3 linked regions of the Homo sapiens genome follow. The protein of the gene in region 1 purifies or fractionates together with the protein of each later gene. This does not show direct contact. Each region holds a gene or a part of one and is shown on either strand. Other genes may lie near its edges.

Region 1 (7,934 bases):
AGCTGAGCCATAGCAAGCCAAGTGGAGGCATCTGAGGCAGCCAAAAATGGGATCCTAGACCTTAACCAACAGATGCATTCTAAACGGGGCGGTCTAAGCATCCTTGAAGAATGGGCAAGTTCATTGACTAGTCCATTTATTCATTCATTAGCAGATGTGTTTTAAGCAACTGGCAGATGTTCAAGAGAGAATGGGAGCAGGCCCAGGAAGGTACCATGGCAGGGAGGTCAGGAAGGAAGTGGTGAGCTTAAGAAAGGAGCAGGTTCCCACAGATGCAAAAGAACAACGGGGGTGGCCCTAGAAACCGGTGATTAGGAGCCCCGGTGGCCTGAGAGAGGGGCTCTGTGGGGATGGCAGGGGTGGAGAGCCAGCCAGAGGTGAAGGAGCTATTGGGCAGTTCAAGAGGTACATGGGGTGGGTGGCAAAGGGAGCCCTGAGCTCAGCAGCAGGAGGCTCTAGCAATCAGAAGAGACTAAGAACAGTTATTTATTGAGCTCCTACTAGGAGCTTTAGTGCTGTTCAAGGTGTTTGCAGAGAAGTGGAATGGGAGTGGTTGGTAGCTGGGTAAACATGGCTTTGAGTCTTCACAGGAACCCTACTGTGAATGGCACAAAGGGTAGTGTGGGGTGCAGAAATGGAGGAGCAGCTTGAGGACTTAGCTCTGGCTGGCAGCACCCCTATCTTCCTTCAAAGAGGGTTCAAAGACTAGGGCAGGGAATGGGGGAACACAGCACTGAAGGAATTGACAGGGTGGGGCAGGAGGTAGGCTGGTCTCTTCTGGCTGGGTGGGGTGAGATGGCAGCGGCTTAAGGTCTCTGGGAAGGAGTCAAAGGGAAGGAGGGAGAAAGGGGAGGGGGCAGCCCTGGGGTTTCCCTGAGGAGTCTGGGGAGGAGAAGCTGCAAGGGCACGGCAGATTAGGGTGCCTGTGGAGGAAGGCGGACTTCTGGAGCCTGACTCTGCCAAAGAAAGGAAGCCATGGGGCGGGTTTCTGGGAGCTTGCTAGTGGGTGAGAAGAGGGGGGCCGGCCGGGAGGCGTTTCCGCTCCCCGGGGAGCGAGTGAGCGCCGAGCTGTTCTTGGCTCCTCGCTGGAGCCATTAATCTTGCAGCCGCGGGTGACCTGGATGCCTGGCATTCCAGAGCCGCGAGCTGTTCCGCTCCCGGCCCGCCCCCCGCCGCTCCCTCCCGTGCGCGCTGCCTGGCGCCCTTCGCCCGGCTTTGGGAGGAGGGAGGGTGAGCACAAAGGGAGCCTGGAACGTGGAGGTGGGGGCTCGCTCGCTGCCCAAGGCGCATCCCGGGTCCCGTCGGCGCCTCGCCTGCCTTCCTGCCCTCCTCCGCTGGCCTTCGGGCGTCCTCTTCCCACCCGCACCCAGACCACTTATTTCTTACTAAGGAGCTCTCCTTCCCGAGATCCCGCAGGCCCAAGGTTTTATCAGGGTCCTGTTGGTAGGGGATGGCCAGAGCTCAAAGCCTCCCAGCCCCCACCAGGGCCTTAGAGGTTGGACAAGGCTGCAGGAAGCTTCTGGAAGCAGAGGGCTGGGTCCTCCGGCCCCTTCCTCCCCCAGGGCTGAGGAAACCCAAGCAGCTCTTCCTTGCTCCCTAGTAGCTATTGCAAAGGGAGGTGTCTGATTGACCTCCCTTTTATCTGGGGTCAGTCAACACTAGGAAAGTGTGGCCATTATCACCAATGCCATCTGCTTTTCCTCCTAGGCAAGCCACGCAGCCCCCCAGCACTGCCCTTCTGGCCCTTCTAGGCCAGCAGTGCCCCCTGGGGATCTGGCCTTGAGGCCTGAGGCTGGCCTGTTAGCTCCACCCCCTTGGGAATATTTCTTCTCTCCCTGCGCCCCAGATTCTCCAGCTATAAGATGAGACAGAGTCCTTCCCCACAGAGTCATGCTAAGGCTGAAATGAGATGCAGGCCCTGGGCAAACTGAACGCACAGGTGGACTAGGGGAGGGTCCTCCCTGCCTGAGTCCCAACCTGGCTGCCCCTCCTCAATGGATGTTAACACCCCACTCAATGGATGTTAAGCCAGCGAAGTATGAACACATCCGTTTCAATATTATTGGACTTCCTCGTATTTTCCTCCATGCCACAGAATGATACCATCCTGGGCTCAGCCTTCAAACATCCAAAATGAATCAAGAGCTAACCTGAGTTGCCTCTGTGTCCTCCCTGCCCTGCCCCAGGGACCTGAGTAAATGAATCCTCCCTTCCACATGCCAAGGTCTCAAGCCTTCACCCTTCTGTTCCAGAACTTGCACTGTCCTATATGATAGGTACTTAGCTGCATGTGGCCCAAAGATTGAAATTAATGAAAATAAATTAAATTTAAAATTCAGTTCTCCCATCTTACTAGCCACATTTCCAGTCCTCAGTGGCACGTGTGTCTAGTAGCCACTGCATTGGAGGGTGCCGTATAGAACAATTCCACTCTGGCAGAAAATTCCACTGAATCAGAATGCTGTTCTAGAGACAGTGCCTTTAGGTTCATTAGCGGGAGCCCATAGCCCTGCCCCCCACCTGCTCTCCAGCAAGGTAGGCAGCTGACCTGCTCCTCAGGGGGCAGCCTGGGACTCTCAAGGGGCAGGTGCCTGGGAGGTGGATTTAAGGCTAGAACATCAGATGGAGGGCTCTGTGGTCTGGCTTGGGCTTCTCCTGGCCCTATGGAGAGGGCCTCTGAGCAGTTTCTTTGGGCAATTAACAAAATGATTTAAAAGTCAGGATAGCTTGACCCTTACACACTAATCTTTGGGCCATAGTCATTTTCACTGTACTGCAGACTTTGCATTTCCTTCTGAGCCTGGTTGCTTACATCTCAGTGTTCTTTTCAGACCATGGAAGGAAATGTAGCCCTCAACGGACCTCTCGGCCTGGGTCTGCAGAAGGAGCCCCAGAGCTCTGGGTGGCCTATAAGTACAAACGCCTCACCATGTAGCCAGAGGCAGCCTGGGCCTTTGTAGTGTGGCCAACTGGGGTTTCCATTTGGCAGCACCATTCACCTCCTATGTTTCTCCCCTATAAGTTGGGGATCCCAAATCCTCCCTGGAGGGGCTGGAGGATTCGTGGAATAAGATGTGTAAGGGCCTGGTGTGCCGACAGCCGATGGTGGTTCTGTTCCCCCTTCTTTCATTCTCCCACTGGAAGGAGGACCATGTCACAGCCTACCTGAGTCTCTATTTTCTCATCTGTACATGGGCATCACAGTTCCTACCTCAACAGTCTCGAGCCGTCACAAGGTTCAAGGGATATTGTGGATGTGTTTTAGACATGGTGCCCCTGGCACAAGTGGATGGTGTTTGGGGCTGTCCCATGGCAGTATGTCCCAGTAGAAAGGCAGGGTAGCCCAGTTGTTACTGCAAGGGTCCTGGAATTGGGCTCTGTCATTTACTCCTGACTTAACATGAGCCTTGGTTTCTTCTTCCATGAAACAGGGTTAATAGTGGTACCTTATTCCTGTTATTTTTGAGAGAATGAGAAGCAACTGTGCTCATCCAGTGGTCAGCACTGAGCCCAGGAGGCAATGGGGCCAGCCAACGTGGTCACTGTCACTGATCAAGCCTCTTTCTCCCTACAGGCTACGAACAGCAGCAGGAGCAAGAGAAGCTGGAGCGAGAGATGGCACTGCTGCGCGGCGCCATCGAGGACCAGCGGCGGCGTGCCGAGCTGCTGGAGCAGGCTCTGGGCAATGCGCAGGGCCGGGCAGCTCGAGCCGAAGAGGAGCTGCGCAAGAAGCAGGCCTATGTGGAGAAAGTGGAGCGGCTGCAGCAGGCGCTCGGGCAGCTGCAGGCAGCCTGTGAGAAGCGGGAGCAGCTGGAGCTGCGTCTGCGGACTCGCCTGGAGCAGGAACTCAAGGCCCTGCGTGCACAGCAGGTGAGCTGAGAAAGTCTCCAGGCTAGGGCAGCATCTGAGGATGTTGGCTTCCCTTCCTCCTCGGGGACTGTAGGTTTGGAGGCCAGGGCTGAGGCCCCGGGAGCCCCTGCTTAGATCTAGGCTGCAGGCCCGTTGGAAGGCGGCGAGGATGATTGCTCTCTGCTCCACCTTTGCTGCGTGCTCCCTTCCACTCGTTGTCTTAGTAGAGGCCCTGCCACCTGGCCCATGTCCAGCCTCGGGGGACTCCTGTCCTCGGCAGCAGCAGGGCTAGTTGTCCTTGACCTCTAGAGAAAGTAAGTCAGGAACCTGGATATAGAAGGCCTGCGAGCTTTTTTTTTTTTGAGATGGAATCTCATTCTGTCGCCCAGGCTGGAGTGCAGTGGCGCGAACGCTCACTGCAACTTCCACCTCCCAGGTTCAAGCCATTCTCTTGCCTCAGCCTCCCGAGTAGCTGAGACTACAGGCGTGCGCCACCACGCCCAGCTAATTTTTGTATTTTTAGTAGAGATGAGGTTTCACCATATTGGCCAGGCTGGTCTTGAACCCCTGACCTCACGTGGTCCGCCGACCTTGGCCTCCCAAAGTGCTGGGATTACAGGCATGAGCCACTGCGTCTGGCCACCAGCCAGCTTTTATATGCCTCCCCAAGATTGGGAGGAAAGATGGTTGTCCAGATCCACTGTGCTTAGCCTCACTTCGGACTTCTGTGTAAACAACTCTTGGTGTTTACAAACCAAATAGAGTTATTTCTCCACTCCCAAACCTACCCTTGCCACAGAGGTAGTGTGACTGAACCCCCTGGTTTGCCCAGTTCTGTTCTAATGTACACCAGTTTTCCCAGTATAATTATTGATAGCACCCCCTTTGCCAGTTTGGAGGATTATCTGTCTGGTCTCTATGCCCTTGCCCTAGGATTCAGGGCAGGGGTATGGGGACCTGTGCTGTATCCCCATTTCGGTAGAGGAAGGATGGGGAAATGTATGCTGTGTATGGCTGAACACGTACATGTACAAGTGACAGTCGTGTGGAGGCGAAGACCAGTGGCTGCCACACCCCAACCTGCACCCTTGACCACGGTCTCTACTCCTTGCTCTGCAGAGACAGGCAGGTGCCCCAGGTGGTAGCAGTGGCAGTGGTGGGTCTCCAGAGCTCAGCGCCCTGCGACTGTCAGAACAACTGCGAGAGAAGGAGGAGCAGATCCTGGCGCTGGAGGCCGACATGACCAAGTGGGAGCAGAAGTATTTGGAGGAACGTGCCATGAGGCAGTTTGCCATGGATGCGGCTGCCACGGCTGCTGCTCAGCGTGACACCACTCTCATCCGACATTCCCCCCAGCCCTCACCCAGCAGCAGCTTCAATGAGGGTCTGCTCACTGGTGGCCACAGGCATCAGGAGATGGAAAGCAGGTTCGGCATTGCAGGCCAGGCACCTGAGGTTGGGGGGGTGGGTGGCAATGTCCAGTCACTGCCCTGCCCTTGATCCCTGATAAACAGGCCCCTTTCCCCATAGAGCTCAGCAGTCCCTCCTGCTTCTGAGCTGAACCTGCATGATTGGCACACCAGGCACTGTAAACATGCATTTGCCCAGAAATACCGAGTCCTTGGTCTGCCCAGGAGACTCTTACTGTGGAGGTGTTGGGTGCCATCCAGTGCTTGGGCCCTGCCTCCCCTCTCCGGAGTGCCGCCCTCCAGGATGAGGGCTGTGCCGCCACTATCATCTGATGAATCTGGAACCCATCCTTAATGGCCTGCCTTTGCTGGTGTGAGAAGGGCCCAGGGCCTTATGCACTGGTGGTTTTCAGAGCCTGGGCTCTAAGAGCATCAAATTCCAGAGCTGTGGTGCCATTTCTAAGCCCTCTCTGGGTCCCTGCTACAAGCACAGAAGGATCCAGCCTGGCAGGGTTGGGGGAGTTGGGGGGGGCTTTTCCTCTAACTCCTATGAGGCAGGAAGGGTGGAGGCTGTTGGATCTGTGGGTCTGACAATGTGGGCATGGCCTCTCACCCCTCAGGTTAAAGGTGCTCCATGCCCAGATCCTGGAGAAGGATGCAGTGATCAAGGTCCTTCAGCAGCGCTCCAGGAGAGACCCTGGCAAGGCCATCCAGGGCTCCCTGCGGCCTGCCAAGTCGGTGCCATCTGTTTTCGCGGCTGCGGCAGCAGGAACCCAGGGCTGGCAAGGGCTCTCTTCTAGTGAGCGACAAACAGCAGACGCCCCTGCTCGGCTGACTACAGGTAAGAGGAGGCTACTGCTGGGATAGATTGAGAGGTAATTTCTCCTGGGCCTGAACACAGATTGCCAGACCTTTCCTCCCAGAACTGAGGCTATAGGAGCCAGGGCTTCCTGACCCTCTTCCAGGGGAGCTGGCTTATTCTCTGCCTCTAGTGACTCTACAGCGCAAGGCTCTCCTGCCAGTGTGAAGAGGGGTACTTAGTCCCCATCACCATAAATTCTATCATGCTTCAGCCCCAGCCACTGAACTAAGAAAAATAGAGCTTCCTGTGCAGATACACCTTGTATGCAAGCTCCCTCCACTCTTCCTTCTAAGCAGATGCCACAGAAACTCTAGAAGATTTAATCTATAAGGAAGGGTCCCACCACCCAAAACATTTGGAAGCCAATCCAATCTGGTAGTTATTCCCATTTGAAAATAGGAGCATTTTTAGTCTTAAAGTTCTTGCAAATCAAGAGCAGCCCACTCCACCTTGAATCCCCAGCAGGGACAGTTAACTTAGAGTGTCCTTCACCAGGGCCACATCTTACAGGCATGGCAATAACCATCCACCTACCTTTCCAGCAGACAGAGCACCCACAGAGGAGCCAGTGGTCACAGCTCCCCCTGCTGCCCATGCCAAACACGGGAGCAGAGATGGGAGCACCCAGACTGAGGGCCCCCCAGACAGCACCTCCACCTGCCTGCCACCGGAGCCTGACAGCCTTCTGGGGTGCAGCAGTAGCCAGAGAGCAGCCTCTCTGGGTAAGTCCTCCTGACCCCACTTCTGTGCTAGGTAGGGCCGAGGGGGCACTGGGGTGTGAACTGGAACACAAGGCCTTTTCTTCCCAGACCCCCTCCGGGTCATTGCCCGCACTCCATGGGGAGCCGTGCATAGCCAGAGGTGAGCAGGGTGCCTGGCCCACCTCAATGTGAACATGAGGGATGGCTGGTTGCATGAATAGGGAAATTGGAAACCCTGATTAGAGGCAGATCCAGAATTCAGAAAGAAAGCAACCAGATGGGAGGCACTTTAGCTCCTCTTTCATGGTCTTCCCTACATAGTTAATTTCCAATTTGATTATCCAAGAGAATGGAGCTCGCAAGTCATGCCGATGGCACTCTGGAAGCCTGTTTAAAGAGTCCGGGAAGGAGAAATCTGAGAAGATGCCATTTCTTTTTCCACTCCCCTTTCACATTGGCCTTTGCATATTTGCCTGTGCCTCATGATCTCAGAAAACCACAGGCATGAAAAGAATGCTGCAGCCTGCCTCCCTCAGGGCTCTCCATTGCTCTCTCTAAGCCCTCCAACCAGTTCAAAGTTAGAAACAAATGCATCCTACACATCGGAGGTTGGTGGGCTGGGCTGAGCACTGAAAGGGGGCAGAGCATTGTGCTTGGTTGGCCGAGTTCTGGGAACCTGGGCAGCAGAGGTGGGAAAAGTTGGTGAAGAACGATCTTTGTCTTTCAAATGTGCCAGGATTTTAAAAGCAATCTAGTAACACTCATTGGCATGTGCCTGTGTTCTTGTCTGTCTCCAGACTCTGTAGCTACATCCAGAGTCCAGGACTTGTCAGACATGGTGGAGATACTGATCTGAAGGAGGTGGTGCTTCAGGACTCTGAGCCATTCTCTCCCCTCCTCTGCCCTGTGCCACTCTCAGCCATTTCAGCAGCCCCGTCAACCGCTGCTCCGTCCCTTTCCCCAGCCAGACACTCATTCCCATTGACCATCTGGTCCCAGGAGCTCAGGAGGAGGACCCCAGGGGAGAGGAGAGCTGTGAGAGCACCGGCACCCCCAGAAGACTCTGCTTCTTAGCCCACATTCCTCCGGGCCTTATGGAGAATGAGGATTCAG
Region 2 (7,664 bases), on another chromosome or scaffold:
ACATACCTCCTTCTCCAGAAAACTTTCAAGTTCACAGCCTTGCGTTGTCCATCTTTAATACACTTAGTTGTTGGTTTTAATAATTAAGGAAACAGGACCTACCTATACCTGTGCCAACAGGGGGCACTATCCCTCTGTAAAGAACAAATCAAAAAGTATTTTGTGTTGTAGCTGGAGGATCCAATGGTCTTGCTTTTGGCAAAAACTTGAAGAGGAGGGTGGTCTTTACATGTGTGGAAACCTTGAGTGGCCGAGCAAATAGCAAGAGAAATTGCTTAGTGGCTTTTAAAATTTGAAATATAATTTTACTTTTTATTTTTACAATACAGTGTACAGTATGACATCTCAAAATAACAGTGCAGATACAGGAAAAGAGTACAAAGGGGGATTAACAACAGATGTCAGAAGGTTACCTTTATTAAGGCTAAATCCCTGCTTTATATTTTCCACACATTCACAAAATTACATTCAAATCATTCCTTATTGATCCTTATTTCTTAGGCCATGAGAAAAGGAAGATAATCCAGACATTAGATTTTCATAGAAAGCAAATCTGGATTAGTCTAAATAATATTCTCCTTCCATTTGTTCTGACAACGAAAATTTGAGAAACAAAGTTATGCACCAACCTAAAACTTCCTTATTTGGATTTTCCAAGTACATAGCATTAGTTATTGATATCATTTCTATATTAAATGGTAAGACCTCCCCCACACTGGGGTCTCCAGTCAGAACCACAGAGGGACAGGAAATGGAATTGGCCAGAGTGGCTGTACAACTAGGTGTACAGCAAGGCTTTTTTCCATATTCTTTTGTGGAGGTCAGCAACAACTCAGTTTTCACTTTAAGGACTATGTTGAATATCAGCACATCCTCATCACTAGGATTTAGAAAAGTTTAGGACATTTCTATCTACCATTGCTGATGAGGAAGGGGAGAATGATTGATAGACTTCACTGACCTTGAAATATTTATCATCTCAGACTTCCTAAAAGTATGGCATGGCATCACCTCTGCCTTGATACAAGATCTGCTTGTTAAAGCCATGTTCCTGAATCTTGACAGCACATGGCCCTAGTGCAGGCCTAATGTCTACAGCAGGCACAAGAGCCACTCACTGACACTACCTACACCCTCACTCTAACTTAACATGAACTGCCAATAGTTTAGCTCTTGGAGTTGAAAACAGTTGTCAGTTACAATAAGCAGGATCACAAAACTCCATTGTCAACCATAGACTACACTTCATTCCTGAGACGTAAACTGGAAAACTGAAAAGATTAAGTAAGTGCTAAGTATATTCCTTAGTTTTTAATGCTAAAAATCGGTGTGACCTGTGAAATTTCCTGGCTCTAAACTGGAGTATTTCAGATCTGAAGAGACAGTAGTGTATGGCATTCCTTCCCTCAACCCAAGAATGTTATTTTCTTCCTAAGGAACATTATCTTGAAAATATTTCCACATAAAACACTCTCCAGCCAACTTAATAGGCCATGCAAATTTGAACAGAAAAAGGCGACATATAAACTGTCTACATTTGTTCAAATAAAATTATGTAGAAGAAAAAAAATCAATCAAATATGTACATGACACAAATTACTCCTTAAACATAATTGCTTATGTTAAATTAAATGATGTCAGTATTATTCCAGTGTTTAGCTCTGGGTATAGGAAATGCTGTAGCTAAAGTCACCATAAAAATAAAATCAAGGCATTCACATTTGAGGTTGTTTGTTACACATCACACTATCCTAAAGGCTTGAAAAGACTGCAAATTAAGTTTCCATGCCAATTATATACGTTGAATTTTAAAGCTACAGCTATAGAGACAGTACGAAAATCCTATTAGCTTAAATGTTTCTTTTATGATTTACCAAGCTGTTGCATTCTCGTCATAAGAGGCAGACCTTGTTAGGTTAAAAACCTATTTCTATATATTTAATACCTTTTTCTCTCCAATATTCTTTTCCTAAAATGTTCAAATGACTTTCAGGTCTTCCCTTCCTTTTGATCTTAAAGTCAACTGTCATAATATTTCCCAAGGACATATATAATTTTATTCTAATGCTAAACAAGTGTTTTCAATGACCATTTGTTGATCTATTAAATATTAATATACAGTACAGCAGCTATATTCATCAACAGAATTCCAGTTTATTACCTATATATACGTAGCACAGTCATAGGATACTGTGCTCATACATAAAAATGCAAAAACTGTCAAATGTGCTATCCTCCCATGTATACAAAAAACTATTAGCATCATGAGGAAGAAACTTTTTAAGTCAATACAGATTATAATGAACACCTGCCATTCATAAAAATGTAACATACATTCTATTATACTATGCTGATGAGGGAAGGGAAGCTAAGTGAGTAAATCAGTTGAGACGACTTAAGAAAAAAATTCAGGAAATCATAATTTAAAAAAGATCAGCATATTTTGTATACCTTTAAGTAGATTAGAGTGTGTTGAGTGTAGAGTCTGATCCACAAAGTCTGAGCAAAAAAACTGGTGCTTCTAATGGAATGTTTTTTGTTTTTTTAAGAATCAAAAGACATATAAATGAATTCAAGCCTAACAAAGTAGCTTCAACCCAAAGTGGCACCATTTTGTTTTTTATTTTTCCTTTTTAGGAAAGTATCTCTGATGACTAAATTAGTTTCCTAAGCAAATACTGCCTTGCCCAGTGCATAGAAGCACAGTCCCTCTGCTCAATATTCCCAATGAAGTCATTTAAGTGTTAATGATTTAACACTTAAGAATAATCACATCAATATTTGTGTGAGACATGGACGCTTGTGTATACAAGTTTTTCACAGAGATACAACTAAGCAGAAAGGGTTTAGGTGAAAACAAAAGGTTTTAACAGGACAAAATGGAATGCTCTGTTGAAAGCTTCCATTTAGAATCCCAAAATGAGGCAAGAACCGCTAAAGCCATGTATAGAGAATAAAGGATGCCATGCACAAACTGCCTAAGGGAACTGTCGTCTCACTAATTCAAGAGATCTAAGAACAGATCTACAGCTTATACTGCTGCCTTCCATCTTATCCTCAATCTTGCTGCAGTGTCGGGCAGTCCTCCTATTGGCAGTTTTTGCCAGATCAAGTCCAACATGCCACAGAATGGATGTTTCTTTCACCTCAGCCAAGTGGATGGTACCCACTGAGGTTCAGTATCAAGTTTGTTAATTAACCTAAGCAATTCCTGATAGGCTTTATCAAGATCGGAATTCACAATTGCCGTATCAAAGTAGTGGCCATTGTTCTGCTCCATCTCTCTTGTCTTCTCAATGATTTCTCTCAACTCTTCAGGCTGCAAACAGAAGATAAAAACTGTGAGATAATTCCTTTCCTAACCAAATAATATAGGATGAGTCAGAGATGGCCAAAGAACAAGGAGCGACCTTCATAGCTTTCCTTCTGTCTCTCCCAACCTCAGGAGCTCCTTTCCAACCCTGTCACGGCCACAATGGTTACCTTTGCTTTGGCATCTTCACGACTCATATTATGAACCATCTGGGACTCAATATATCCTGTTTTATACCACTATTTAGGTTTTCACATATTTTGTCTTATCTCACCAACAAAACTACAAGCTTCAAGAACACACACTGTTTCCCTACAAACATTTGTTTTCAAACATTCTAGACACTATAACCTCTTCCTAATAGTAACATCTGTAATATGGAGTGAACCTTTCTGGTTGGAGCAAGGACCTAAAATGCCATTTACTTTTGGCTCTAGTAAAGAGCCCTTGCCCTATACTATCTGCTGCAGAGAGTTAAAAGTATCCTACCAGAGTTTGGGAAACTATATAGAGTAGCCTACTTTAAAATACTGACTGAAGGAAAGGGCCATTTTACAAAGATAAGCAGGCAGCAAGGCTATGTGCAAAACTTATCCTGAACCCTCTAATTATCAGGCACATGGGTTCAAGAAAGTGAAACTCACCTCAAATCACCCCTGCCAATGAAGACAACTAACTTAAACTCAAGACAAAATGTCTCAGATATAAAAGTCACACATCAATACTATATTGGACCCATAGTACAAAACAATTTATATCATTCAACTGTTTGAACTTCTGTAACAGTAAGAAAACATATTAAAAATATGACAACTCTGGCTTGTCCTGAGGCAGTTTCTTGCATGACTCTCATTCTGGAATGTTGTACATCTGAATATGGCACACAGAATCCTTTGTTCCCAGCAGGGAATCTACTTCACCACTGTAACTGAACACACTGACATTTTTGCTAAAACTTATGTCTACCGTAAGCTCAAGATTATTGGAAGAACATTCTAGGACTCCACAGAGAACTGAAACTTTGTGGTATTGGAGTTGAAATGAAAATGATAAAGCCCGAATCCACCTAGTTTTTATCAAATTTAAGGCATTGTTATTCCATTTTGTGCCAAAATGGCTTATATCACTTATTTAGTACTTCATGTCTGAAGTTCTCTTTCAAATTACAATCCACGACTAAGATGAAACAAAATGTTTTAGCTCAAAATTTTTAGCTGAACTAGGCAAAACTGACAATAAGTTCATACTGCTAGATAGCCACTCTCAAGCCTTCATACTAGCAGAACAGATTCAGAGATTCAGAATGCAACTAGATAACCGGTTGGTTACATTTTGTAACGCCATCATTTTCTTAGCACAATTTTATAGAGTTAAAATTGAAAATCTGTTTTACTTCAGCACTTCTATCATTGAGTAATAAAGCACTATTAGAAATACCAATACCAGCGCAGGGGCTCCCCCGCCTGTAATCTCAGCACTTTGGGAGGCCAAGGTAGGTGGATCACATGGGGCCGGGAGCTTGAGACCAGCCTGGCCAACAGGGCAAAACCCCGTCTCTATTAAAAATACAAAAAATAGCCAGGCGTGATGGTGCACATCTGTAATCCCAGCTACTTGGGAGGCTGAGGCATGAGAATCACTTAAACCCAGGAAGCAGAGGTTGCAGTGAACCAAGATTGTGCCACTGCACTCCAGCCTGGGCGACAGAGTGAGACTCTGTCTCAAAAAAAAGAAAGAAATATCACAGGAGAAAAAAACTTAAGTAGAATAAATACAATCAGATACACCATCCTCTACACCAAAAACTGTGGAATACACATCCTAACAGGTGTGCACAGAACATTCACCAAGAAAGAACAGATGTTGGGCCATAAAATAAGGCTCAACAAATTTGAAAAGACTGACATCTTTCAGGGTCTGACCACCTGGAATTATAAATCAGTTAAAATCTTTTTCACATCTCCAAATAGGTGGAAACTATATAACATACTTCTAAATAACTCATGTGTTAAAGAGAAAAACAAGGAAGCGGGGTGCCGGGGGCTCAGGCCCATAATCCCAGCACTTTGGAAGGCTGAGGCAGGTGGATCACCTGAGGTCGGGAGTTTGGGACCAGCCTGACCAACATGGAGAAACCCCATCTCTACTAAAAATACAAAATTAGCTGGGCGTGGTGGTGCATGCCTATAATCCCAGCTACTCGGGAGGCTGAGGCAAGAGAATTGCTTGAACCCGGGAGGCAGAGGTTGCAGTGAGCAGAGATAGTGCCACTGCACTCCAGCCTGGGCAACAAGAGCGAAACCCCATCTCAAAAAAAAAAAAAAAAAAAATGAAGGGAAATTAGAAAATACTTCTAACAAAATGGTAACAAAAATACAATGCCAAAACTTACGGGATGCAACTAAAGAACTGTTTCGAGGGAAATTTATAATTTCAAATGCCTACATTTGAAAAGAAGAGTTTAAAAATTAAGCATTCATCTTGAGAAACTAAAGCAAGTGCAAATTATAGTCAAAGAAAGCATAAAAAGAAATGAATTAAATAGAAAAGAGACAATAAAGACAAATGCCCTCCAACTTATTTCTTTTGCTAAAGTGTCTGATTATTCCTTTTGATAATAATAATAATAATTATTATTATTATTATTTATTTCCTGGTTCCAGATTGTGTCTTTATTCCTCTTTCTGACAGACAGCAGAGCATTTGTCTGGCATATATTCTCTCTTACCACAATATAGATGATTTTCTGTGACTTTAACAATACATACAAGAAAAAAATCACATCTTTATGCCAATACCATTCTTTCACAATACTAGAAGAACAGATTCAGAGTACAATTACATAACTGGTTGGTTACATTTTGCATCCAGTGAGTAACACCATCATCTTCTTAGTTTCTATATCTATTTATTTATTTATTTATTTATTTATTTATTTATTTATTTATTTTTGAGACCAAGTCTTGCTGTGTTGCCCAGGCTGGAGTGCAGTAGCACGAACTCGGCCTCTTCAGTAGCCAGTACCACAGGCGTGCACCACCATGCCTGGCTAATGTTTTTTGTATTTTTAGTAGAGACAGGATTTCACTATGTTGCCCAGGCTGGTCTCGAACTCCTGGCCTCAAGTGATGCGTCCGCCGTATCTCAAAATAATAAGAGCTATTTATGACAAACCCACAGCCAATATCATACTGAATGGACAAAAACTGGAAGCATTCCCTTTGAAAACTGGCGCAAGACAGGGATGCCCTCTCTCACCACTCCTATTCAACACAGTGTTGGAAGTTCTGGCCAGGGCAATCAGGCAGGAGAAAGAAATAAAGGGTATTCAATTAGGAAAAGAGGAAGTCGAATTATCCCTGTTTGCAGATGACATGATTGTACATGTAGAAAACTCCATCGTCTCAGCCCAAAATCTCCTTAAGCTGATAAGCAACTTCAGCAAAGTCTCAGGATACAAAATCAATGTGCAGAAATCACAAGCATTCCTATACATCAATAACAGACAAAGAGAGAGCCAAATCATGAGTGAACTCCCATTCACAATTGCTACAAAGAGAATAAAATACCTAGGAATCCAACTTACAAGGGATGTGAAGGACCTCTTCAAGGAGAACTACAAACCACTGCTCAACCAAGTAAAAGAGGACCAAACAAATGGAAGAACATTCCATGCTCATGGATGGGAAGAATCAATATTGTGAAAATGGCCATACTGCCCAAGGTAATTTATAGATTCAATGCCATCCCCATCAAGCTACCAATGACTTTCTTCACAGAATTGGAAAAAACTACTTTAAAGTTCATATGGAACCAAAAAAGAGCCTGCATTGCCAAGACAACCCTAAGCCAAAAGAATAAAGCTGAAGGCATCACCCTATCCAACTTCAAACTATACTACAAGGCTACAGTAACCAAAACAGCATGCTACTGGTACCAAAACAGAGATACAGACCAATGGAACAGAACAGAGCCCTCAGAAATAATACCACACATCTACAACCATCTGATCTTTGACAAACCTGACAAAAAGAAGAAATGGGGAAAGGATGCCCTATTTAATAAATGGTGCTGGGAAAACTGGCTAGCCATATGTAGAAAGCTGAAACTGGATCCCTTCCTTACACCTTATACAAAAGTTAATTCAAGATGGATTAAAGACTTAAATGTTAGACCTAAAACCAGAAAAACCCTAGAAGAAAACCTAGGCAATACCATTCAGGACATAGGCATGGGCAAGGACTTCATGACTAAAACACCAAAAGCAATGGCAACAAAACTCAAAATTGACAAATGGGATCTAATTAAAGAGCTTCTGCACAGCAAAAGAAACTACCATCAGAGTGAATAG
Region 3 (7,664 bases), on another chromosome or scaffold:
CGGTGTGGGGACAGGCTGAAGACCCTAGAGCAGAGGGCGCGGAAGCAGCACCAGAGGTGCCTGGCACATTCACTGGTGGGGACTCCAAACTACATCGCACCCGAGGTGCTCCTCCGCAAAGGTACATGCGCCATGGCCAGCCACCCCGCAGGAGGTCTCCTTCCCTTCAGACGTGAGCTGAGTCTCGCTGGCTCTAGCTTTCCAAGGACCTAATGCTTCCAGTCATATTTTTGTCCTCATAGAAGCCTGAAAGCTACTAATTTCTGCAACATACAAGCCTCCCTCCTGTCCTGGAAGTGCTCTTGCTTCAGGGGGTTGGAAGACATGCACCATTAGACCAGTGTCTGCTGGCCCTCGGGCTCTACCTAGACCCAAGGGAATGACTCCAGCCCTGATTTTCACAGTCAGATGATGGAAACCACTCTGAGGGCCACAGGACCTCTGCTCAGTCTGCCCAGACCACACATTTCCGGGCTCTAGCTTTAACTTCTGTCTCAGGCTCCTGGCTGAGTTGTGCCGTGTGCAGCTGGGTGCTTATGTGACAGCGTTGGAAGATCCTTTTTCTCTCATTCTCCCTGCTAGACCATAAGCAAAAGTGGCAGGTGCCAGTTGTGTAAAATGACTAGTGCTCATAACATTTGCCTCCTGGATGGATGCTTCATTCTGTCAAATGCAACATCTGGTTCAGTATAGGAGGAATCCTTCAGTGATCCTGCATGGTCCACAGTGACAATGGGGTGTAATTAATCCAGAGACAGGCAGCCCCTGCCATCACATGTTGTTTAAAGTCCTTTGGAGCCAGCCAGACTCAGTTCAAGTCTGGGTTTTCTTTGCTAGCTGTGGTAATCCAGCACAAGTTACTTAACTACTCAGACCACAGACATAGCAATAACGACCTTGAGAGGTTGTGAATAACCTTGGTGCCCAGTGAAGGTCTACTTCCCTCTACCACGTGCAGCATTCTCAAGAAACCATTGCTTGGGGTTTTTCTGCAGCCTCTGTTGCCAAACTTGGACAGGAAGAGGTGGGACGGAGAGATAGCAGAGGGGCCTGAGGGGGCTACCCTGGCATATGCAGCTGCAGGCACCCGCAGACTGACCTCTTAACATCCCAGTTTATACTTAGCAAGGATTAGGTGACATGAAGACGATCCTGGCTTGATGGGTCATGAGGCTCTGAAGGAAAAGTGGGAGAAAATAAGAGGTAAACGAGCCTAGCCTACAGCCTCCCAGAGGCCAGCCCTGACCCAGCACAGCTGGGAGCCCCGTGAGGAAGGCCCGGCTCCGTAGGGGCCTCACACAAGGAGTGTTTGGCTTACAGTGAATTGTCCGGTGGGTTTTGCCCACCTCCTCCTCATCTCCGTATTCTTCAGCTTCATCCAAAACTGACTTAGAAGCCTCCCTTGACCCTCACCTGACTATTCACAGGTTATAGCACTTTATGTTTTTCAGTTCTGTTATTTTAATTGGTGCCTCTGTTTGTGATCTTTAAGAACATAAAATTCTGGCTAGTAACTATTTGCTAACAATAAAAATAATCTTTTTAAATTAAAAAGTATTTTCTTATTACAATGATTAAAAATACAAAAACCTAAGCGGCCATGGCCACCGCCCCCCACCACCCCACCCAGTAGTATCCAGGTACTTACATAGGTCCATCTTGCGCACAGTGCGATGCTTCAACGCGCTTTCCCACTTAACAGGAAATCTGTATGTTCAGCATCTTAATGAAATTCACCTCGGAGGAGAATTCATGCCTGTGTAGGGATTGAGTGAACTTTGTCTTGCAGGGTACACTCAACTCTGTGACTGGTGGAGTGTTGGAGTGATTCTCTTCGAGATGCTGGTGGGGCAGCCGCCCTTTTTGGCACCTACTCCCACAGAAACCCAGCTGAAGGTAATGTGAGAGGAACCACGCATCTGCTTGCTGTAGACATCTGATTTGCTCATGTACCCATGAATCTTTGGTCAGCATTTGCCCTCTTATTCTGAGTAGGGTAGGAATGGCAGTTGTATAGGATGGGATTTTTAAAAATAATCTCATTATTTTTTAAATTATCTATTTTTAAATTTTCTATTTTGATAAGCAAAGCCATGGAATTGGACCCATTTTAATATCTGAAATTCTATTAAACCCTTGGCCATCTGCCACCTTGCTATTTCCAGGCAAGAACAGTGAGGATCAGCAAAGGTGTGCTGCTGATCCACTGTCTCCCCCACCCACACCTGCCCTGCAGAGAACACACGGAACTCCAGGAACTATAGTTCACCCCTCAGCAATGAGGGGTTTGGGGTGCCAAACCCCCTGCACAGTCAAAAATCTGCATAACTTTCAACTCCCCAAAAACTTTACTAATAGCCTGTTGACTGGAAGCCTTACCAGTAACATAGCGTCAATGAACACATATTTTGTATTTTATATGTATTAGATCCTGTATTCTTACAATAAAGCAAGCTAGAGAACAGAAAATGCTGGCCAGGCGCAGTGGCTCATGCCTGTAATCCCACTACTTTGGGAGGATCATAGGCTGGGCGCAGTGGCTCATGCCTATAATCCCACCACTTTGGAAGGCCAAGGTGGGCAGATTACCTGAGGTCAGGAGTTCAAGACCAGCCTGGGCAACATGGCGAAACCCGTCTCTACTGAAAATACAAAATATTAGTCCATCATGGTGGTGTGCACCTGTAATCCCAGCTACTCAGGAGGCTGAGGCAGGAGAACCACTTGAACCCAGGAAGCAGAGGATGCAGTGAGCCGAGATCACACCACTGCAGTCCAGCCTGGGTGACAGAGTGAGACTCTGTCTAAAGAAAAAAAATCATAAAGAAGAGAAAATAGGTTTACTATTTTAATAATTGAAAGTGGATCATCATAAAGGTCTCCATCTTTGTCATCTTCATGTGGAGTGGGCTGAGGAAGGGGAGGCATTGGCCTTGCTGTCTCAGGGATGGCAAAGGTGGAAGAAAATGCTAGTGTAAGTGACCCTCAAACTGTGTTGTTCAAGGGTCAACTGTATCTAAAGAAAGCAGTTTCTTTATTTGGATATTATATCATTGTTCGCAAACTGTCAGCTATGTGGTCAGGCTAGTTGTGCATATTCCTAATATTCATTCAAAGTAGTTAAATAATTGTCAGTCATTTAATACTAAATTATTAGTTTTAAAATGACAGCCATTTGCTTTCTGAAATGAGTTACTAAGGGTTGAACTGAGAATTGAAATTAAGAATCTGCAGTCTTCTGTGGACATACCAACTGACACACAGTCCTTGGAATTTTCACATGCCCTGGTGGTCATGTGAGCCACCAGGGCATGTGGTTATTAGGCCAGGGAGCCTAAATTAATAACTTTAATTAGAAAATCTGTCTAGTAAGGTTGGGCGTGGTGGATCATGCCTGTCATCCCAGCACTTTGGGAGGCGGAGGCGGGCAGATTACGAGGTCAGGAGATCGAGACTAGCCTGGCCAACGTAGTGAAACCCCGTCTCTACTGAAAATACAAAAAATTAGCCTGGCATGGGGGCGGGCGCCTGTAGTCTCAGCTACTTGGGAGGCTGAGGCAGGAGAATCGCTTGAACCCAGGAGGCAGAGGTTGCAGTGAGCCGAGATCACGCCACTGCACTCCAACCTGGATGACAGAGCGAGACTCTGTTTCAAAAAAAGAAAAAAGAGAAATCGAAAAACCCTAAAGTAAGGCTTAGTTTCACTCTAGGAACAGTAAAATTGGAATCTGGCATTATCTGCGCCCTAATTGAATGGCTGAGCTACTCACTAAATTGCCCACATGATAATTCAGATTTTTTTATTCTGGTAAAATATACATAACATAAAATTTACCATCTAATTATTTTAATGGTAAATTAAAATTTACCATCTAATTATTTTAATGGTAAATTAAAATTTACCATCTAATTATTTTAATGGTAAATTAAAATTTACCATCTTAATTATTTTAATTACCATTTATTTAATAATTATTTTAATTATTTACCATTTTTAATTATTTTAGTGTATAATTCAGTGACATTAAGTACATTCACAATATTGTGCAACCATCACCACCCTCTATTTTCAAATGTGTTAATCGTCCCAAACCCATTAAACAGAAACTCCCCACTCTCCTTTTCAGCACCTGCTCGCCTCTCTTCTGCTTCCTGTCTCTGTGAGTTTGGTTATGCTTAGGACTTTTTTTTTTTTTTTTTTGAGACAGGGTTTTGCTCTGTATCCCAGGCTGCAGTGCAGTGGCACAATCTTGGCTCATTGCAACCTCTGCCTTCCGGGTTCTCATGCCTCAGCCTCCCAAGCAGCTGGGATTACAGGTGCCTGCCACAACACCAGCTAATTTTTGTATTTTTAGTAGAGATGTGGCTTCATCATGTTGGTCAGGCTGGTTTCAAACTCCTGACCTCAAGTTATCCACCCACCTCAGCCTCCCAAAATGTTGGGATTATAGGTGTGAGCCACTGTGCCTGGCCTCGGGACTTCTTGTAAGTGGAGTCATGCAGTATCTGTCTTTTTGTGTCTAGTTTATTTCACTTAGCGTAATGTCCTCAGGGTTCATCCATTGTTGTAGCTTCCTTTTTAAGGTGGAATAATAATTCCACTGTATGAGTCCCTGCTTCCGGTTCTTTTGGATATAAACCAGAAAGTGGGTTTATATCCCACTGGATTATATGGTCGTTCTGTGTTTAACTTTTTGAGGAACTCCCAAACTGTTTGCCATAGTGGCTGCACCATTTTACATTCCCACCAACAGTGACTGAGTGTTCAGTTTCCCTACATCCTCAATAAGTATTTTCCTGTTTTTGTTTTTTTTAAGTAGTAGCCACCCTAGGGGATGTAAGGTGGTATCTCATTGTGGTTTTGAGTTGTATTTCCCTAGTGTTTAATTATATTGAGCTTATTTTCATGTCCTTATTGGTCATTTGTATATCTTTGGAAATATCTCCTCAAGTCCATTACCCTTTTTAAATCAACTTATTTGGTTTTGTTATTGTTGTTGAGTTGTAGGAGTTCTGTATTTTCTCTGGGTACTAACCCCTTTTCAAATACATGTTTTGAAATCTGTTCTCCCATTTTGTTGCCTTTTTGCTATCAGTAATGTCCTTCGATGCACAAAAGTTTTAAATTTTTATGCAGTCCAATTTATTTTTTCTTTTATTCCCTGTGCTTTTGGTGGCATGTCTAAGAAATCATTGCCAAACTCAGGTTCATGAAGATTTCACCCTATGTTTTCTTCTAGGAGCTCTACAGTTTTAGCTCTATGAAAACAACTACTTAGGTTCAAACCAAGCCTACCACCCACACACCCACTAACTTCCATGCCTTATCCGCTGTCCCATCACCCCAGCTGGTAGCCAGTCATGTTGGCCTTGTTTCCTCCTGATTCTAAGTGTAAACAATAAAGAAGTCCCCTAGGTTTTGTCTTCACAGTAGACACATCTCTACAACAAGTGCATTTACTGAACGTCCAGATGGCTGGTTTGTGCAGTTGAGCATGTAAGGTCACATGGGGTCAGTCAGCTTTATTCTTCCCTATGAAGTTTTTCCTGTTTGTTTTTCAAAACCCCAGTTGGCCGTTTTTTGACCGCAATAAGTATTTGAATGAGCGTCATGATGGTTTGCAGAAAGCCATTGCCATAGCTAAAGAAATAACTTTAGCTGATCACCTGAGGTCAGGAGTTCAGGACTAGCCTGGCCAACGTGGTGAAACCCTGTCTCTACTAAAAATACAAAAATCAGCCGGGTGTGGTGGCAGGCGCCTGTAATCCCAGCTACTCGGGAGGCTGAGGCAGGAGAATCGCTTGAACCCAGGAGGCGGAGGTTGCAGTGAGCCAAGATCGCACCACTGCACTCCAACCTGGGCAACACAGCGAGACTCCATCTCAAAAAAATAAAAAGAAAGAAAGAACTTGTAGACCATCATTCTCTTCATTTTTGTGGAAAGCACAAAATTCTTTGGCTAAACAGTATTTCTGATAGAAGAAAATCAGTATCTTTTTGTCTGTATTTGACTGGTCATCCTGGCCTCAGGCTGTGAGCCATCGACTGAAATGACACTGACTTTTTGTGGCTGCTGAGATCAACAACTGCTGCTTGTGTCTATTCTAACTCCTCTCCTATTGTGAAACTAAACATATTTGAAAGTCACGTCATCACACGCTGTCCCAGAACTGCCCAAGATGTGAGGAGAAACTAACCTGTTGGCTCTGTTGTTTCCTCAGGTGATCAACTGGGAGAACACGCTCCACATTCCAGCCCAGGTGAAGCTGAGCCCTGAGGCCAGGGACCTCATCACCAAGCTGTGCTGCTCCGCAGACCACCGCCTGGGGCGGAATGGGGCCGATGACCTGAAGGCCCACCCCTTCTTCAGCGCCATTGACTTCTCCAGTGACATCCGGAAGCAGCCAGCCCCCTACGTTCCCACCATCAGCCACCCCATGGACACCTCGAATTTCGACCCCGTAGATGAAGAAAGCCCTTGGAACGATGCCAGCGAAGGTAGCACCAAGGCCTGGGACACACTCACCTCGCCCAATAACAAGCATCCTGAGCACGCATTTTACGAATTCACCTTCCGAAGGTTCTTTGATGACAATGGCTACCCCTTTCGATGCCCAAAGCCTTCAGGAGCAGAAGCTTCACAGGCTGAGAGCTCAGATTTAGAAAGCTCTGATCTGGTGGATCAGACTGAAGGCTGCCAGCCTGTGTACGTGTAGATGGGGGCCAGGCACCCCCACCACTCGCTGCCTCCCAGGTCAGGGTCCCGGAGCCGGTGCCCTCACAGGCCAATAGGGAAGCCGAGGGCTGTTTTGTTTTAAATTAGTCCGTCGATTACTTCACTTGAAATTCTGCTCTTCACCAAGAAAACCCAAACAGGACACTTTTGAAAACAGGACTCAGCATCGCTTTCAATAGGCTTTTCAGGACCTTCACTGCATTAAAACAATATTTTTGAAAATTTAGTACAGTTTAGAAAGAGCACTTATTTTGTTTATATCCATTTTTTCTTACTAAATTATAGGGATTAACTTTGACAAATCATGCTGCTGTTATTTTCTACATTTGTATTTTATCCATAGCACTTATTCACATTTAGGAAAAGACATAAAAACTGAAGAACATTGATGAGAAATCTCTGTGCAATAATGTAAAAAAAAAAAAAGATAACACTCTGCTCAATGTCACGGAGACCATTTTATCCACACAATGGTTTTTGTTTTTTATTTTTTCCCATGTTTCAAAATTGTGATATAATGATATAATGTTAAAAGCTGCTTTTTTTGGCTTTTTGCATATCTAGTATAATAGGAAGTGTGAGCAAGGTGATGATGTGGCTGTGATTTCCGACGTCTGGTGTGTGGAGAGTACTGCATGAGCAGAGTTCTTCTATTATAAAATTACCATATCTTGCCATTCACAGCAGGTCCTGTGAATACGTTTTTACTGAGTGTCTTTAAATGAGGTGTTCTAGACAGTGTGCTGATAATGTATTGTGCGGGTGACCTCTTCGCTATGATTGTATCTCTTACTGTTTTGTTAAAGAAATGCAGATGTGTAACTGAGAAGTGATTTGTGTGTGTGTCTTGGTTGTGATTGGATTCTTTGGGGGGGGGGAACTGAAACATTTGTCATATACTGAACTTATATACATCAAAAGGGATTA

The links.
Region 2: the proteins of AMOTL2 (region 1) and PALS1 purify together in Homo sapiens (affinity purification with mass spectrometry; 4 studies listed by BioGRID and IntAct, with this or other methods). This does not show direct contact.
Region 3: the proteins of AMOTL2 (region 1) and LATS2 purify together in Homo sapiens (affinity purification with western blotting; 3 studies listed by BioGRID). This does not show direct contact.

The regions. Positions count from the first base shown.
Region 1 is NC_000003.12:134,357,448-134,365,381, reverse strand, and holds part of AMOTL2 (angiomotin-like protein 2), read left to right. Parts: intron 1-3,574; coding exon 3,575-3,870; intron 3,871-4,968; coding exon 4,969-5,276; intron 5,277-5,878; coding exon 5,879-6,099; intron 6,100-6,662; coding exon 6,663-6,842; intron 6,843-7,618; coding exon 7,619-7,677; 3' UTR 7,678-7,934. UniProt on the Homo sapiens protein: Regulates the translocation of phosphorylated SRC to peripheral cell-matrix adhesion sites. Required for proper architecture of actin filaments.
Region 2 is NC_000014.9:67,328,435-67,336,098, reverse strand, and holds the end of PALS1 (protein PALS1), read right to left. Parts: intron 3,320-7,664; coding exon 3,143-3,319; 3' UTR 38-3,142; downstream 1-37. UniProt on the Homo sapiens protein: Plays a role in tight junction biogenesis and in the establishment of cell polarity in epithelial cells.
Region 3 is NC_000013.11:20,973,923-20,981,586, reverse strand, and holds part of LATS2 (serine/threonine-protein kinase LATS2), read left to right. Parts: coding exon 1-121; intron 122-1,789; coding exon 1,790-1,896; intron 1,897-6,222; coding exon 6,223-6,717; 3' UTR 6,718-7,664. UniProt on the Homo sapiens protein: Negative regulator of YAP1 in the Hippo signaling pathway that plays a pivotal role in organ size control and tumor suppression by restricting proliferation and promoting apoptosis.